Regions from separate parts of the Homo sapiens genome. Here all the other regions are linked to region 1. Evidence: fine-mapped expression QTL. A gene starts in region 1. Each other region holds a variant in brackets. All regions are shown on one strand. Distances are between the middles of the regions.

The links. PIP is the estimated chance that this variant, and not a neighbour inherited with it, causes the effect.
Region 2: its variant is the best candidate, but not a certain one, in a credible set for the expression of LRPAP1 in sun-exposed skin (GTEx, PIP 0.56).
Region 3: its variant is the best candidate, but not a certain one, in a credible set for the expression of LRPAP1 in whole blood (INTERVAL, PIP 0.66).
Region 4: its variant is the best candidate, but not a certain one, in a credible set for the expression of LRPAP1 in activated CD8 T cells (Schmiedel 2018, PIP 0.81).

What each region holds. Positions count from the first base shown.
Region 1 is chr4:3,530,008-3,534,165 of GRCh38, reverse strand. It overlaps LRPAP1 (LDL receptor related protein associated protein 1), which reads left to right and starts at 1,744. Exons shown (of 8, transcript NM_002337.4): 1 at 1,744-1,957. The coding sequence starts at 1,754. RefSeq lists silencers at 1,505-1,564, 2,005-2,254 and an enhancer at 1,755-1,964.
Region 2 is chr4:3,502,930-3,507,087 of GRCh38, reverse strand. It overlaps LRPAP1 (LDL receptor related protein associated protein 1), which reads left to right. Exons shown (of 8, transcript NM_002337.4): 8 at 1-3,476. Among named protein-coding and RNA genes, the nearest start is that of LRPAP1, 27 kb to the left of the region's middle. The variant A/G (reference allele first, on the strand shown) is at 2,004.
Region 3 is chr4:3,551,613-3,555,770 of GRCh38, reverse strand. No RefSeq gene overlaps it. Among named protein-coding and RNA genes, the nearest start is that of LRPAP1, 21 kb to the right of the region's middle. The variant T/C (reference allele first, on the strand shown) is at 1,943.
Region 4 is chr4:3,497,270-3,501,427 of GRCh38, reverse strand. It overlaps a transcript of DOK7 not described here. Among named protein-coding and RNA genes, the nearest start is that of LRPAP1, 33 kb to the left of the region's middle. The variant C/A (reference allele first, on the strand shown) is at 2,281.

The sequences.
Region 1 (4,158 bases):
TCAGGGCAAAACATGTATGTGGGGTAAAACAGGTGACCTCTGATTCTAGGCACCAGGAGATGGAGAGAAGAGCAGGAACGAGGGAACACAAGGGGAAGGCAGGCACAGGTGAGAATCTAGGCCAGGCTCACCTGGCCATTCTGTCCTGAGGCTTAAAAACATGCAATGATGGCAATGACAGCATTTGATCTGTCTCTGGAGTCACTTCGCATGAGGTCATTCTCCCTCCACCACCCTCCTGGGGGATTCCTTTACCTCCTCTCCCCCATACATCCCATATTGGGAACTTGTGCTTCCAGCTAAGATGCAGTAACAGACTGAATTTACCCTCTTGCCTGAAACAACTCAACAGCTGGAAAAAAAGAAATGAAACGATGGCTCTGAAAATACTAGAAAAGCAGCACAGGACAGAAGCAGATCACCTTGATTCCAGGGACCTGAAATCTTCTCTGGAACAACACAAGATACAATTTAAATGTAAATTAGGGTAGGCCCAGTGGCCCACGCCTGTAATCCCAGCACTTTGGGGGACCAAGACGGGAGGGTTGCTTGAGCCCAGGAGTTGGAGAACAGCCTGGACAACATAGGGAGACCTAATTTCTACCAAAAAATTTCAAAAATTAGCTGGGCGTGGTGACACGCACCTATAGTTCCAGCTACTTGGGAGGCTGAGGCAGGAGGATCGCTTTAGCCCAGGAGGTCGAGGCTGCAGTGAGCCATGATCATGCCACTGCACTCCAGCCTCGATGACAGAGACCCTATCCCCCCACGCAAAAAAAGGAAATGAATTAACATTAATTCCTCTCAAGATGCCCAGGCTCTATTCACCCCCTTTGTCATTGTCCCTCCAGTTGGAAATTCCTCCCTCCCCCCGCAAAATCCCGCCCACCCTTGGAGGCCTTTTCAGATCATTCTTGCCAGATGAGCTCCCCTTGTCCCTTCTCTGAGCCCAAAGGGGCCCAGCTGCTGTCTGTCTCCCTCCTTCCCCTTGTTTCCCGCGCTACCTCCAGGGCACTTCCCAACTCACTGGCCAAGCCCCCAACGAGCGGTCTATGCTAACTTTGGCTCTGTGAATTTCCTAGAGTGTCATGGGTTGGGGAAAAGCGCGCGAAGTCCTGCCTTGCAGCAGGCGCGAGAGCAGGCGCTTGGGACGCGGGTTGGGGCAGGGGCCCCGGGACGTAGGGGGACGTCTGCGCGGCCCTGCGTCCCCGGGACAACCTGGCCTGGGCTTACCCACGGCCAGGCGCTCCGCGGAGGGCAGAAGCGGGCTGGGCCAGGCTCCTCAGCGCCAGGCCCGGGCCGCAGTGCCAACCCCGCAACGGCACTGGACATGCAAGAGTCGGCGTCAGTGCGCGTGAAGCCGGAGCATTATCAGGCTCAGCCAAACGCGGCCCGGTTCTTGGGCTTTCCGCTCTTTCTGTGGGGCAGAGAGGGAAAGAGGCCTCGAGTCGTGCGGGCTCCAGGCTCCGGGCTCTGGGTGAGGCCTGATCCCTGCTCCCACCCGGCCACCCTCATTCTCCAGTTGTATCCCCTGCCAGAGTCTGCAGCCTCGGGCCGCGGCGTGGTTGCCTGGGAAACGCTTGCGCCTGCGCAGGGCTTCCTAGGCGCTGGAGTCCGCCGGCGGCCTCGCCGCTGCCGGCCGCTCACGGAGGAACTACAATTCCCAGGAGACCGCGCGGTGGGTGGGGGCGGGGTAGTGGGCGGGGCATCGGCAGGCTAGGTTTTCTCCGCGCAGCGCCAGTCGCAGAGGAAGATGGCGCCGCGGAGGGTCAGGTCGTTTCTGCGCGGGCTCCCGGCGCTGCTACTGCTGCTGCTCTTCCTCGGGCCCTGGCCCGCTGCGAGCCACGGCGGCAAGTACTCGCGGGAGAAGAACCAGCCCAAGCCGTCCCCGAAACGCGAGTCCGGAGAGGAGTTCCGCATGGAGAAGTTGAACCAGCTGTGGGAGAAGGCCCAGCGAGTGAGCGCGGCCCGCGGTCGGTGGAGCGGGGCCTGGGGGCGGGGGCCGTGGTTGGGGTCGTTGGAGCGGGGCCCAGGGGTCGGAGGCGGAGGGGGGCGCAGCCGGGGCACCTGTGCCCTACGCGCCCTGTCCTTGGCACAGCCTCCCCCAAGTGTCAGGTGGGGCGCCCCGACCCCTTCTGCAGCAGGAAAGGTACCCGTGCCGGCGACGACGCCGTGTGAAGCAGGTGGCGGCCGGCACCCCGAGGGTCAGTGTCGCCCTCCCCAGCCTGGGCGGCCTGCTGACCCGAGCGTAGGGACAGAACCAGGCTAGATCACAGGTCTCCTGCCTCCCGAGCCTTTGCCTGTTCCCTCAACCTTATCTCCCTATGTGGGGAAACAAGAAAAACAAAATGTTGGGTAGAAAGACGTGTCCAGGGACAGAAGGAATCCCAGTAGCAAGCCCGTGCTTGTTCATTTGAGCGAGAAATGAGGAGGTGAGGAGATGGGATCGGTTTAGAGCACATAAAACGCGACCTTGGGAATGCTGAAAGTCAGTCTTAACAGGGCGCTCACCTGACCTCTCCTTCATTTGAGAGATGAGGGTACGGAGGCCCCGAGGGGAAAGGGCACCCCCAAGGTGGCTCGGCCGGTGGGGCCCCCCGGGACAACAGCTTCCTAATTGGTGCGTGACCCTGGGCCAGCTGCTCTCTTCATTAAGATACGGTTGCTTCATTTGTTAGGTGTTCCTGAAAACACCTGAAATGGGTGTTTTCGAACTATGCCGACCATCTGGGCCTCATTATCTCATCTCAAATGCAGGAGTCAGATTAGATCTCTGTCTCAATAGTCCAGTTTTAAGCATTCCTGAGTCTTTGAGAGGGAAAGTAAGTGATTTGCAGAATAAGAAGGAACTTTTGGAACGAAAAGGGAGAGGAGAAACAGGTGGGGGACAGACAGACGACAGACGGTTATAAGACTGCGTGGGGATGGGGATTGACGCCTGGGCATCAGCTCCACAGGCCCTTCCTGAACTGCTCCTGGGACCAGCAGTCAAGCCCCAGGCGTAATGTTCAGCCTGCGGAGGTGGGAGGTGGGAGAACGCTCTGGGCTGGAGCGGCAGGGCGGCTTCTTGGAGGAAGGGATTCTGGAGGGGCTGGGGACACGGCTGGGTTTGGATGTGTTGATGGCCTCCCAGCAGCAGGGAACAGGTGTGACCAGGAGCAGCCGGGATGCAGTGCTGCCTCCCCGTGCCCACTGCACTGGGCATCTGTTGAGTGGGTGGAGTCCCCCCTCCCCATGAGGAATGGGGAGCCCGAAATAGACTCCCTGACCGATTGGAGGTGGCGCTGAGGAAGTGCACTCGGACCCAGGAACCCCAGCGGCTCCCTTTTGGGTGCTGGCCCAAGTCTTCCACCTGCTCTGCAGGGCCGCCCTGGTGCGCTCCACCTTACCTCCAGCCACCTCCAGCTGGTCCTCTGTCTTTGTCAGCCCAGGCCTCCTGCAGCAATACACCTGCCCTCAGGCTGCCCCTGCACTGGTCCAGCTACCCTCGGGCTGCCCCTGCACTGTCCCCCGGTGCTGGGTGCTCGCCTGACCAGTTTCAGTCTTGGGTTGGGTCATGTCTCCTAAACCTCCCTGAGGTTCACTGGGCACCATGGTAGGGCGAGCTGCTCACCTCCACTTTGGACTGAGCCTTGGACTAGATGATCTTTCTGGTCCCTTTAAGTCCTGAAGTTCTAGTTGTGTGGGCAAGTCTTTTTTGCTGAACAGAACGTGAAGTTCTTCGGGGGTGAGGGTGTTTTGGGGGATTTTGTGTGTCTTCCCCCATTCCAGAGAGCCTGGTACTATGGCAGGCAGGCCTGCAGAGCCCATTCGTCCTGATTTTCCTTCCAGATAACGGAAGCTTGGAGGGTGGCGGTGCTGTGAGGGTGTTCTATCCTGGAGCCAAGTGTGCAGGCGTCAGACCCGTCCGGGTCTTTTTGAGGTTCTCAGTGGCGGTAGTGCATCCCGGGTGGTCTTTGTGCTGTGGCTCTTTCTGCCGAGCGTGCCAGGGCCCAGGGTGGTCAGGAGGCAGGAGGAGCCACAGTCAGTTCAAACGTAGGGGGAGAGAATTGTTCGTGCAAATAGTCACTCCAGTCGGCTTCTTACCCCACCTGACTCGCCGCTCTAGGTAGGTATCAGACGGAGACGGGGTCTTGGATCGCCCCCTGGAAGATAATT
Region 2 (4,158 bases), 27 kb after region 1:
TATGCTCTGCTAATTTAAAGAAAAGGTTTTTTTTATAGAGACTGGGTCTCGCTGTGTTGCCCAGGCTGGTCTCGGAGTCCTGGTCTCAAGTGATTCACCTGCCTCCACCTCGCGGAGTGCCAGGATTACAGGTGGCGGGAGCCGCCACACCCAGCCTGGTCTTAGCGTTATTCCCAGGTCTAGGTGTGAGTCCTTCCTCAGATATGTGTTGTGAATAATTTCCGATCCTCTGGCTTGCTATTTTACTTTCTTAATGGTTATCTTTTGGAAAGCAAAGGTTTCCAGTTTGATGAAATCTAATTTTTATTTTTTATTTTTCCGTTCTAGTGGTCTTTCTATTTTCTCATCAAATTGAGACTTTGGGGAAACTACACAGCAGCAAACCAGGATATATCCTCTTAAAAACAGCTCGAGCCGGCCGGGTGCGGTGGCTCATGCCTGGAATCCCAGCACTTTGGGAGGTGGAGGTGGGCGGATCACGTGAGGTCAGGAGTTTGAGACCAGCCTGGCCAACATGGTGAAACCCCATCTCTACTAAAAATAAAAAATTAGCCAGGCATGGTGGCAGGCACCTGTAATCCCAGCTACTTGGGAGGCTGAGGCAGGAGAATGGCTTGAACCTGGGAGGCAGAGGTTGCAGTGAGCCGAGATCGCGCCATTGCACTCCGGCCTGGGGACAAGAGCAAGACTTCGCCTCAAAAAAAAAAAAAAACCCAGCTTGAGCCAAGTGTGGGTGGCTCCCGCCTGGAATCCCAGCACTTTGGGAGGCTGAGGCGGGCAGATCACTTGAGGCCAGGAGTTTGAGACCAGCCTGGCCAACATCACAAAATCCCATCTCTACTAAAAATACAAAAATTAACCAGGAGTGGTGGCAGCATCTGCCTATAATCCCAGCTACTCGGGAGCCTAAGGCACGAGAATCACTTGAAGCTGGGAGACAGAGTTTGCAGTGAGCCAAAATCGTGCCATTGCTCTCCAGCATGGATAACAGAGCAAGACTCTGTCTCAAAAAAAAAAAGCTTGAAAATTTAAAAATATCTCAATAATTATGAGATGCAGTGATTTTTTTTTTACTTCCCTAAGCTGGGTTTCCAGGTATCTCTAGGTTCAGCTCCTCCGGGGCTGGAAGTACATGAAGGGCAGCATTGCCCACCTTGACCAGAGCAGGCTCGGAGCAGGGCAGTGGAAGAGCTGGTCCCAGCTCAGCCCAGCCTGCTGGGTCAGCATCCATCTGAAAGGTCATCTCTACCCAGGAACTTGATGGCTTCCAGCTCCACCCTAACAGAAACCTCCCCAGCATCTTGCCGAGTTGTAATCCAGGGTGGTGGTATAGACGGTCTTGGGGTAGCTGGTATAGACGGTCTTGGCGTAGCTGGTATAGACGGTCTTGGGGTAGCTGGTATAGACGGTCTTGGGGTAGCTGGTATAGACGGTCTTGGGGTAGCTGGTATAGACGGGCTTGGGGTAGCTGGTAGTGGTGCTCAGGAGGCGTGTGGGCTGCTGGTGCAGCTGGAAGCGCACCTCAGCCATGGTGTTGTGCCAGGTGTGGTTGGGGATGCAGGGGACGTTCCGGCCGCAGGAGGCCCCTGCCAGGCACAGGCAGCTGCGCGGTGTGGAAGAAGTGCCGCTCGGAGTCATGCTTGACAAGGAAGTACACCTTACTCCTCTCAGTGGTGAGGGGTCAAACCACTCCTTCCCAGCGATGGGGCCAGCAGCCTGGCGAGGGCTAGGCACCGGGGAGGGATGCTGGATTTGGAGCTGGGGGGAAGGGGTCACCCTGCATTGGGCTCCAGTGCTCCGGGTGCCATGCCTGCTCCCCCACCACTGCCACCGCAGCCGCTGCGGGACACCAGGGGCTGGGGCTGAAGAGCAGCCTCGAGCTGGGCTGTCCAGGACACGGTCGCCCTTCTTCCTCGTGTCCGTGAGCTCAGGCACAACCTGCAGCTTAGCCAGCCCACTATGGCTGCGTGCGTGGCAGGACCCGGGCCACCATGGCTGCGTGC[A/G]TGGTAGGGCACATGATTATTTTAGCCTCTGGTATCACTAACCATCCCTAAAGTCTCCAATGGTCTGTTCCTGTCTTTCCCTCTGGTTCACTTGTGGGGTCATGTTGTCTTCTGTTCTTTGTTATTTATTTTTTTCTTGAGACGGAGTCTTGCTCTGTCGCCCAGGCTGGAGTGCGTTGGTGCGATCTCGGCTCACTGCAACCTCTGCCTCCCAGGTTCATGCGATTCCCCTGCCTCAGCCTCCCAAGTAGCTGGGATTATGGGCACCTGCCACCATACCCAGCTAATTTTTCTGTGTGTGTGTGTGTTTTGTTTTTTGGTTTTTTTTTTTTTTTTTTTGAGATGGAATCTCAATTGCTCAGGCTGCAGTGCAATGGCGCAATCTTGGCTCACTGCAACCTCCACCTCCTGGGTTCAAGAAATTCTCCTGCCTCAGCCTCGCAAGTAGCTGGGATTACAGGCCCCTACCACCACAGTGGGCTAATGTTTGTATTTTTAGTAGAGACAGGGTTTCACCATGTTGGCCAGGCTGGTCTCGAACTCCTGACCTCAGGCAATCCGCCCACCTCGGCCTCCCAAAGTGCTGGGATTGTAGGCATGAGCCACCATGCCTGGCCTAATTTTTCTGTTTTTAGTAGAGACAGGACTTCACCATGTTGGCCAGGCTGGTCTCAAATTCCTGACCTCAAGTGATGTGCCCACCTCGGCTGCCCAAAGTGCTGGGATTACAGGCATGAGCTTCTGTGCCCGGCCTGAACTGTTAAGTGTTTGTGAAGAATTATTTGGGGGCCTATTTGAGAGCTGTTATATGGATCATCCTCCTGGAGAGGGTTCTTAAGCCTCTGAGACCGGGTTTGGGGCTGAGGCTTTCTGACCCACACAAGTCATGCTGACCCCTGAAGGGCCGCAGGCCAGATCTTGCCAGGTGAGCACTTTCCCCGCTCACATTCAGGATAGGGCGAGGGGGTTGGTACCGATTCACCCTCAGGGCCTAGATTTGGGGGCTTCAGCTTGCTGCAGATAGGTGCTCCCTTCACTCTCACCTGAGGCTGGGCTGGAGCCTGGTGTCTGCCCCACCCTGCTGGTCAGCCCCCTAGGACCTGAGCCCCGTAAGCCTGGACTGGCCACGCCCTGGGGCAGCAGCACTGGGTGCTTGGCGCTCACGACCTTCCTGGGCCCCTGGGTCCCTCACTTCTCCCTTGTTTCTACCTTCCTGGCTTGTCAGATTCCCACAGCTCTTAAGGAGAAATTCAGTATTTACTGCAGCATGTGTTTTCAGTGTGATGGTTCATCTAGGTACCCTAGCCTGTCATTGCTGGAGTTGGAAATCTCTGTTGTCTGCTGTTGTTTTGTGAAACAAGCGCGTGAGGTTATAAGTTTCCCTCAACGTACCACACTAACCACATTTCCCTAAGTTTTGATGTGTAGTGTTTTCACTGCCATTCAGTTCAAAATATTTTCTCATTTCAAGTATGATGTCTTCTTTGATCCATGTGTATTTTTAAGTTGCTAAGTGTACTTACTTTGGCCGGGCATGGTGGCTTACGCATGTAATCCCAACACTTTAGGAAACTGCGGGGGGGAAGGATCACTTGAACGCAGGAGGCTGAGGCTGCACGTCACAGGGAGAGACGGGCCGCGGTGATGTACGAGCTTCCTGTTGATAGGCAGTTAAGTTGGTTCGGGATAACGTGGCCTGCCTGGCACGGGTATTCCCAGAGTCACAGATGCTCACCCGTGCCAGCGTTGGCTGCTTGGGACATGGGGACGGCGAGGTCCCCACACCCCACATGTGAGCTGCTGGTAGCTGGGCTGAGCCCAGGTCCCATCCGTGTGTGGGGCGTGAGTGTGCGGTGCCATCGGGTCTGCACGGGCCTCGCCTCGTCCCGGACGCTCCAGGCTTCCTGTGGCACGGGTGCCGAGAGGGACCAGCCTGGGCCTGCTGAACCGAGGGGGTGGTCTAGGGCAGAGGCTCCTGCTCTGACAAAAGGGAAGGTGAAAGGCAGGAGCACCAGGAGGGGCAGCACGAGGACAGGGCGTGGGGTGGCAGCCGAATGGGTGGTGTGGCTCGAGGGCAGTGGGCCAAGGCCGGGGCAGTCTCAGGCCCAGGGATGGAAGCCCCATGCGGGCACAGGTTGGAGTCCAGGGTGCCCGA
Region 3 (4,158 bases), 22 kb before region 1:
AGAGTCAGGCCGCACTGGCCCGCCCCAGCTCTCAGAGGCCGGCCATCACTGTGCACCCACACACCACCAGCTGTAACCCAGGCACAGGACCTCAAGGTGGGCTGGCTCAGCTGCCAACAGGAGCGAGTGGTGCTGAGGTCCTCCCAGGAGCCGTGGCCCAGCACCTCCTGGCCGGAACAACCATCCTATTCAAATAAACGAGTAACAAGAATGGGCACGCTCTCCACTTCCAAAAGCAATGCTGGCCGGGCGCAGTGGCTCACGCCTGAAATCCCAATGCCAGAGGCGTGTGAACCAGAGCAACTCCATCTTGAACAGGAGCTGGGTAAAATGAGGCTGAGACCTGCCGGGCTGCATTCCCAGGAGGTTAGGCATTCTAAGTCACAGGATGAGATAGGAGGTCGGCACAAGATACAGGTCATGAAGACCTTGCTCATAAAGGAGGTTGCAGTAAAGAAGCCGGCCAAAGCCCACCAAAACCAAGGCGGCCACGAGAGTGACCTCTGATTGTCCTCACGGCTCATTATATGCCAATTAGAATGCATTAGCTGCTAAAAGACACCCCCACCAGCACCATGACAGCTTACAGATGCCATGGCAATGTCTGGAGGTTACCTTATAAGGTCTCAAAAGGGAGGGGAGGAGACCTCAGATCCTCTTCATCCCTTTACTTTCCTGATAAACTTGCTCTCACTTTACTCCGTGAACTCGCTCCAAAGTCTTTCTCGCATGAGATCAAAGAGACCTCTCTTGGGGTCTGGATCAGAGCCCCCCCTTTTCCAGTAACACCAGCACTTTGTGGGAAAGACAGAGGCGGGAGGATTGAGTGAGGCCAGGAGTTCAAGATCAGCCTGGCCAACATAAGGAGACCTAAGTGTCTAACTTAAAAAAAAAAAAAAGGCCAGGCACAGTGGCTCACGCCCAATACTTTGGGAGACCAAGGTGGGCAGATCACTTGAGCCCAGCAGTTCGAGACCAGCCTGGACAACATCGTGAAACCTTGTCTCTACAAAAAAAAAAATAATAATAATACTAAGAAATTCCCGGGCACGATAGTGTGCACCTGTAGTCCCAGCTATTCAGAAGGCTGAGATGGGAGAATCGCTTGAGCCCAGGAGGTAGAAATTGCAGTGAGCTGAGATTGTGCCACTGCATTCCAGCCTGGGTGACAGAGGGAGACCCTCTCTCAAAAAAATAAAAAAAGAAACCCAGGCAGGCATGGTGGCATGCACCTATAGTCCCCAGCTGCTCCGGAGGCAGAGGCAGCAGAATTGCTCGAGTGCAGGCTGTAGGTCAAGGCTCTAGTGAGTTACGATTGTGCCACCGCACTCCAGCCTGCGTCACAGAGCAAGCTGCAGTCTTAAAAAATAAAAATAAAAAATAAAAGCAGTGCTATTCTCCTACAAATGAAGAAATCTCATCAGACAAATACTGCCACAAACCAGATGAAAATCATGATCTAATATTCCAACAAGAACTTCAGCTCCGAAGGGAGACTACAGCACAGAATAAGAACAGAGGAGAATAAGCACAGAATAAGAACGCAGGGAAGAGGTGGCCAAACGGCAGCGGAGTCTGTGGTAGGAAATGACAGAATTCAGGAAGGAAACTGAAGAAAAAGACAAAACCATTTCAGAAATGAAGAAATGAAGTTACAGGTAATACGAGAGCAGAGACACCACGAAAATCATGTAAAAAAGGAAAAAGTGAGCAAATGGAAAGAAAGAGGAAAGAGATTAAAAAGGATTAGAGAGAAAGTGACTATAAAAGACCAGTAAAGGGCCGGGCGCGGTGGCTCCCGCCTGTAATCCGAGCTCCGAGCTCTTTGGGAGGCAAGACAGTTGGATCACAAGGTCAGGAGTTCAAGACCAGCCTTGCCAAGATGGTGAAACCCCGTCTCTACTAAAAATACAAAAATTAGCCGGGCATGGTGATGTGTGCC[T/C]GTAATCCCAGCTACTCGGGAGGCTGAGGCAGGAGTATCACTTGAACCCAGGAGGCAGAGGTTGCAGTGAGCTGAGACTGTGCCATTACACTCCAGCCTGGCAACAGAGCGAGACTCTGTCTCAAAAAAAAAAAAAAAAAAAAAAAAAAAACAGTAAAGGGGCTCCAGCGTACACATACGATAGGCAAAACTAACAGATCAGAACAATTGACTACTTGATTTATGTGAGAGATGATCTCATATAAGCTAGCGTTGCCCAGGCTGGCCTTGAACTTCTGGCCTCCTGAGTAGCTGGGACCACAGGTGTGCACCACAGCACCTGATGAACAAGGATTGAAACTATCATTCAAGACCTCTTTTATTGAAATGCAGGCAGACTTGCGCCTGCCTGTAAAAGTGCATGCTGTATACTTGTGTGTGTTGGCCCAGAACAGTCAACACAAAACATGCCTTTGTAAAATCACTGGACTTTGAAGATAAAGAAATAATCCTTTAGGCAGCCAGACAGAAAGACCAAGTATCTTATAAAGCAAAGAAAACCAACTTGACATCAGACTTCTCCAAAGTGACATTCAATACCAGAAGAAAAAAGAAGCAATGCCTCCTTATCTAGAATTTGTGGGTAGAATTCTGTCCCCCAGAAAGATATGTTACACTTTGGGAAATTGAGGCAAGTGGATCACTTGAGATCAGGAGTTCGAGACCAGCCTGGCCAACATGGTGAAACCCTAGCTCTAATAAAAATACAAAAATTAGCCAGGCATGGTGGGGTGGGTGGGGGCGCCTGTAATTCTAGCTACTCAGGAGGCTGAGGCAAGAGAATTTCTTGAACCCAGGAGGTGGAGGTTGCAGTGAGCCGAGATCGCGCCACTGCACTCCAGCCTGTGCGACAGAGCAAGACTCTGTCTCAAAAAAATAATAAAAATTTTAAAAGATATGTTAAAGCCTCAACCCCTGGTACCTATGAATGCAACCGTTTTGGAAATAGGGCCTTTGCAGATATAATCAAGTGAAGTCGCAGTCACACCTGATTGGAGTGGGCCCTGATTCAATACAACTCACCTCCTTATAAGAAGACAAAAAAGGCCTGGTGTGGTGGCTCATGCCTGTAATCCCAGCACTTTGGGAGGCCAAGGTGAGTGGAGCACTTGAGGTCAGGAGTTCGAGACCAGCCTGGCCAACATGGTGAAATCCCATCTCTACTAAAAACACAAAAATTAGCCAGTCATGGTGGCGGGCACTTGTAATCCCAGCTCTTTGGGAGGCTGAGGCAGGAGAATGGCGTGAACCCGGGAGGCGGAGCATGCAGTGAGCAGAGATCATGCCACTGCACTCCAGCCTGGGCGACGGGGCAAGACTCTGTCTCAAAAAAAATAAAAAATAAAAAATAGAAGATGATTCGGCTTATGATTCTGGAGGATGGGAAGTCCAAGTTTGAGGGGCTGCATCTGGTGAGGGCCTTCCTGCTGTGTCATCACATGGCAGAAGGCATCACATGGCAAGAGAGTGTGAGAGAGTGAGAGAACACATGCCCAGCCTCGAGGCCTTTTGTTACCTGCATGGATCATCCATGGATCATCCTAAACACCTCCCCTTAGGCCCTACCTCCCAACACTGTTGCATTGAGGACTGAGTTTCCAACACGTGTTTTTAGAGGGACACATTCAAATCACAGCTTCCCCCCTCCACCACCCATTTTAATCCTGGGCTTTGCCTGGCTCCAATTCCTCTCTTATGTAAAGCAATGGATCAGACACACAGCCTTGGGGGATCTGTGAGAACTGAAGGGACTGGGGCCTCTCTCACACAGAACCCCAAAACCCTCCCATGCCTCCAGGACCCCCAGCAGGGAAGAACCCCACCTAACTCAGGGCCCAATCAGAGGCAGGGCCAAGGGTTATCCCTGCCCTCAGACTGGTTTTCCCAGGCTAGGGTCTGAGAACCCCGAGCAGCCAGTCCTTCTTCCCATGGGATGCGACTGGGCAGGGCCAGTGAAGGAACCCAGAGGCATGTTAGTCAAAGTGGGTTTCAGTCTCTGGGTGAGGGGTCCTGCATGGTGAGAAGCTGGGCCCACCTCCCACAGAGCCCACAGAACAGACTCAAACTCAGACACCAACAAGAAGATGCCAAGGCTGGGGAGGGCAGGCCCAGCCCGCAGAGTTCCTGCAAGGACTCTTCCCTGGCTGTGGTCGGAGCAGCTGCTCAGGAAATCCCTG
Region 4 (4,158 bases), 33 kb after region 1:
CTGGGAGAGTCCAGGCTCCGTCCCCAGGTGCAGGGTGGCGGTGGCCCAGGCAGGACAGCCGGGAGGCGGGGAGGGGATTCCGGGAGTGTCTGAGCCGCCAGTCTCAGGAGCGGGCATGGTGCCGACAGTGGGAGCGGGCACTGGGTCCTGGCTCTGCAGGGCCACAACACCCAGGTGAAGGGATGAGCATTTTGCCAGGACACGGCTGTCATCCATGCAGTCACCCCCAGGGTGAGAGGGCGGTTTGCATCCCAGGCACCACAAACCATGCTCCCAAACTCCTGGGCAGCAGCCTCTGCCTGAGATGCCACAGCAGCTACCAGAGCTGCCTGATGCCTGGAAGCAGGGCCTCAGTCAGCCTGGGGTCCAGAGCAACTCTTTCAGGCCGAAGGGTCAGCCCCGGACACCTGTGAGGCAGGAGGCCTGGCCGTGGGCCCTGAAAACTTCCTGTTTGCACCATGGCCCGGAGACCGGCCATGCCTGCTCCTGCGACTGGGAGCTCCCTGGGGACCAGACCACGCCCAACAGAAGGGGCTGGCCTGCCGGGGGCCACGGGGCCGCACAGCGCACCGGGTTTGCGGTCAGCTCCTGGCGCTGTGACCTCACTGCGGGGCTGCCTTCCTCTGCTCCAGCTCCGACAGCTGCTCCTCCCGGGCCCGTGCGTGCCGCACCCCCACTCTGTGCGCCGTCTCGGTGGCCATGATGTCGATCTGGGCGTAGAGGGAGGCGCCAGCCCCTGAAAGAATTCTGTAGTGAGCGGCAGCCTGCGCCCCGAGCCACCCAGCCCTGTGACCCTGCCCTCCACACCAGTCCCCCAGCCAGGCCCTCGGAAGCATCTGAGTGGGGACACCCTCAGGGGATGTGGCCTGGCCAGGGATGGAGTTGGGGACATTTGCCTCCTGGGGGGAGGCTGTAGGAAAAGCTCCCTGGCCAAGGGCTGCTGGGTGGGGCTGGGGGCTCAGGGCCCTGAGGCTGTGGTCCCAGCCCCCAATTGTCAGTGCCTCCACGCAGGGCGGGGACCCACCTCGGACACCCTCGCTGGCCTCCTGGAGCTCCAGGCCCATGTAGTGCAGCTGCTTTCTGGAGGATGGGCTGACGGGGATGTTCACGTAAGTGGGCGACTCGCCGCGCGGCCTCTCTGGTCCTGGGCTGTCCACAGCCACGGGTCCTGGGGATCCTGTGGGGGGAGCGGCTGTGAAGCCCCGGTGGGGACCGAGAGGGGCACAGATCTCAAAGATTGTGCAGTAAAGAGCTGCCCACCCTGCCTAGCCCCTCCTCCCCACTCCGCCTCTCCTGCACCTTGGAAGTTCCCGCTCCATGTTCCTGACCGTCCATCTTTGGCCCAGCGCTGCCCCATCCTGAGGCCCCCCCCACACTGTCCACTCCTGGTCCAAGTACCCACAGAGCAGAAGGAAGCGCTGTCCCCTCCACTGTGCCGCCTCCCCTGCAGGAATTGCCGACCCCCCCATGGGCCCCCCAAGGCCCACTCTTCTGTCCCTGCGCCCCTCGCCCCGCACCTTCCCAACTCTCTCCACCAACCGCCCCTCCTTGGCTGTCCCAGCACCTTCTCTACCTAACCCTCCCGGGCCAGCACAGCCCTGCTTTGTCCTGGCCCCCAGCACCTCCCCCTCACTGTCCTCCGGGGTCACCCCCACCTGCTGCAGGCTCCAGGGACCCCCTCCTCTCCTGCACACAGGCCCACGCTCCCTCTGCATCCCCTCCAGGACACCCAGGTGCCCCACACCCTCTCCCCCCTCATAGGAGCTACTCCCTTCCCCCGACCCCCTTCCTAATAGCTGATGGTTCTGTCTGCACACCCCATTGGTGCTGGGGAGGGCAGAGCAGGAGCAGGATAGGAGGGGACCCCACAGGCCCGGCTGGGTGGGACTTGAGGCAGGCTCCCACCTTAGGGGGTTGGACGCACACCGGCCCCTCCTCTGCAGGCCTGAGGGCTCCGCACCGTGGGCACCCAGGTTCTACAGGAAGGACCCCGTTCTCCAGTGCCTCCTCCCATTCTTGTCATCAGGACCTCGTGAGGGAACGCACAGCCACGTGAGGCAGGGGAGGTGACAGCAAGTCCCCCCCCATTCCCTGAGCCAGTGGCTGGGAGACACAGCCAAGCCCCACCCACAGTGACCTCCCCACCCCCAGCACACTCCGAGCCCTCAGAATTCAGGTGGGGGCTGGGATCCAGCGGGTGACAGCCCTGCAGGGTCGGCCTCCCTGAAACACCTGCCTGTCCAGGGGAGGGGCCTGACTCAAGGCTGGGCCTCCCTGCCC[C/A]AGGGATGCATCCTCAGCAGACCAGGTTCTCCTGTGGCCACCCGCTGCCCGGCACCTGCCGCAGACATCCACTCTGCCTGGCTCCTCTCACCCTTGTCCCCGTCACTCCCTGCAGCAGGGCTAGGGGTGAGGAACTTTCACTTGCTTGCTCCCAGTGGGGAAACTGAGGCCAGGGAGACCTGACTCGCTGATTCTGCAGGCAGCAGCTGGGACAGAGCGAGATGGAGCCCAGGTCGACGAGGGTTCGCTCACCTGATTCCATGAACTAAAGCAACCAACACAATTCTGCCCCAACCCTGCCTGGCCCTGAGGCCCTGGGGAGACCCCCCTCCTGCAAATGTGTGGTCCTAGAGGGCTGGTCCCCTCGGAATGCCAGGACCCCTTCATCGAGATGAGCCACAGAACATAGCGGCCAAGTTCTGGTGCCCAGGCAGGCACCTGGGCCAGCAGGGACAGGGCCAGCAGGGCCAGCTGCCTAGAGGAGGGGGCATGGCTGAGGGGCTAGGCCAAGAGGGGGTGGTGGGAGAGGCAGGTGGGGTGAGGGCCTGGGGAGAGCTGAGGGAGCGCCGGGGCCTGGCGTCTGGAAAGGGGGCCTTGAAGCCAAGGGGCAGGGCCGGGGCTTGCCCACGGTGGGGCTGGACACCCCCCTGCAGCCTGGTACCTCGTTTTAGGATTGCATCCGTTCTTCCAAGTTTGCTCCCAAGGTTGGGCGGTGAGGGGTGAGGGTGGAAGCAGGAAGGAGCATGAGGCCTGACTGCAGGGAAAGGGGACGAATGTTCCCAACACCACCCGGAGTCACACGGGGGCTGTAAGCAGCGCTGGGCCAGCAGTGTGTCCGTATCTGTATCTCCCCCAAGGCCACTGGCTCCAGGGCCCTCAGTGCTCCTCCTCCCGTCCCCTCCTTGGGACTTGGATTTTGCTTCGGCTTCTGTGAGCATCGCTTCCAGTACCTCGGATACTCTTTCAGTGAAGCAGCAACCGGGAATCGGCTGGCCCTTCTGCACTCTCCTCCCAGACCCCGCCCTGGGCTGGCAGCCCGACGCTACCACTTGGGCCTGGCTCATCTCTGTCCCATGACAGACCCCAGGCGCCCCTCCTGAGCCCCCGGCCTCTGTGGAAAAGATTCACATCCTCCAGCAGATACTGGGCCTGTCCCCTTGATCCCCACACCTGTGTCCCAGGGCACCCCTGTCTGGGTAAAAGACATCTGAAGGGTACGGGTGGCCTCGGGGAGGCAACAGCAGGCTGCCCAGGAGGACCCTTGGGGCAGGGCTGGCCCCACCACCTCTGGTCTGGTGGCTGCCTCAGCACACTGGACTGCAGGGATCGGTGTCCAGCCCAGGGCCAAGGCAGACTGGTGGGGGCTTTCCCAAGCTGCCCCTGCCTGCCTGTGGCTCCGCCCCCATCCCTGACTGTCCCCTCCAGGCCTGCCTGGGCGCCTCCCCCACCCTGGGTGTCCTCTCCAGGCCTGCCTGGACCCCGCCCCCCTGTAGGTGCCACCTGCCTGGGAAGAAGGGATTGAGGAATCCAAGGTTTAGCCCGCAGTGGCTCCTACTCCACAAGGAAACAGGCACAGAACTGGCCCTGATGCCACCCATCTACCCCAGGCCAGCCGTCCTCATCTCCAGCCTCTCAGCCCTGCCCAACCTTCAGCAGGGCTCTGTCCCCAGTGACTGCCAGGCTTCTCTAGGGAGACCCTGGGGATCCGTACCTTCCCACTGCCTCCCTGCCTGGCCCTCCCTCCCAACCTGGCCCCAAAACTGCACCTGCCAGGGCACCAATGCCCTGCCCTTCGCCGAGTCGCTCACCACCAGCCCAGCCTCCACAGGCCCCCACCGCTGTCTGAGGACACAGCCCCTCCTCCCTGAGCTGGGGCTC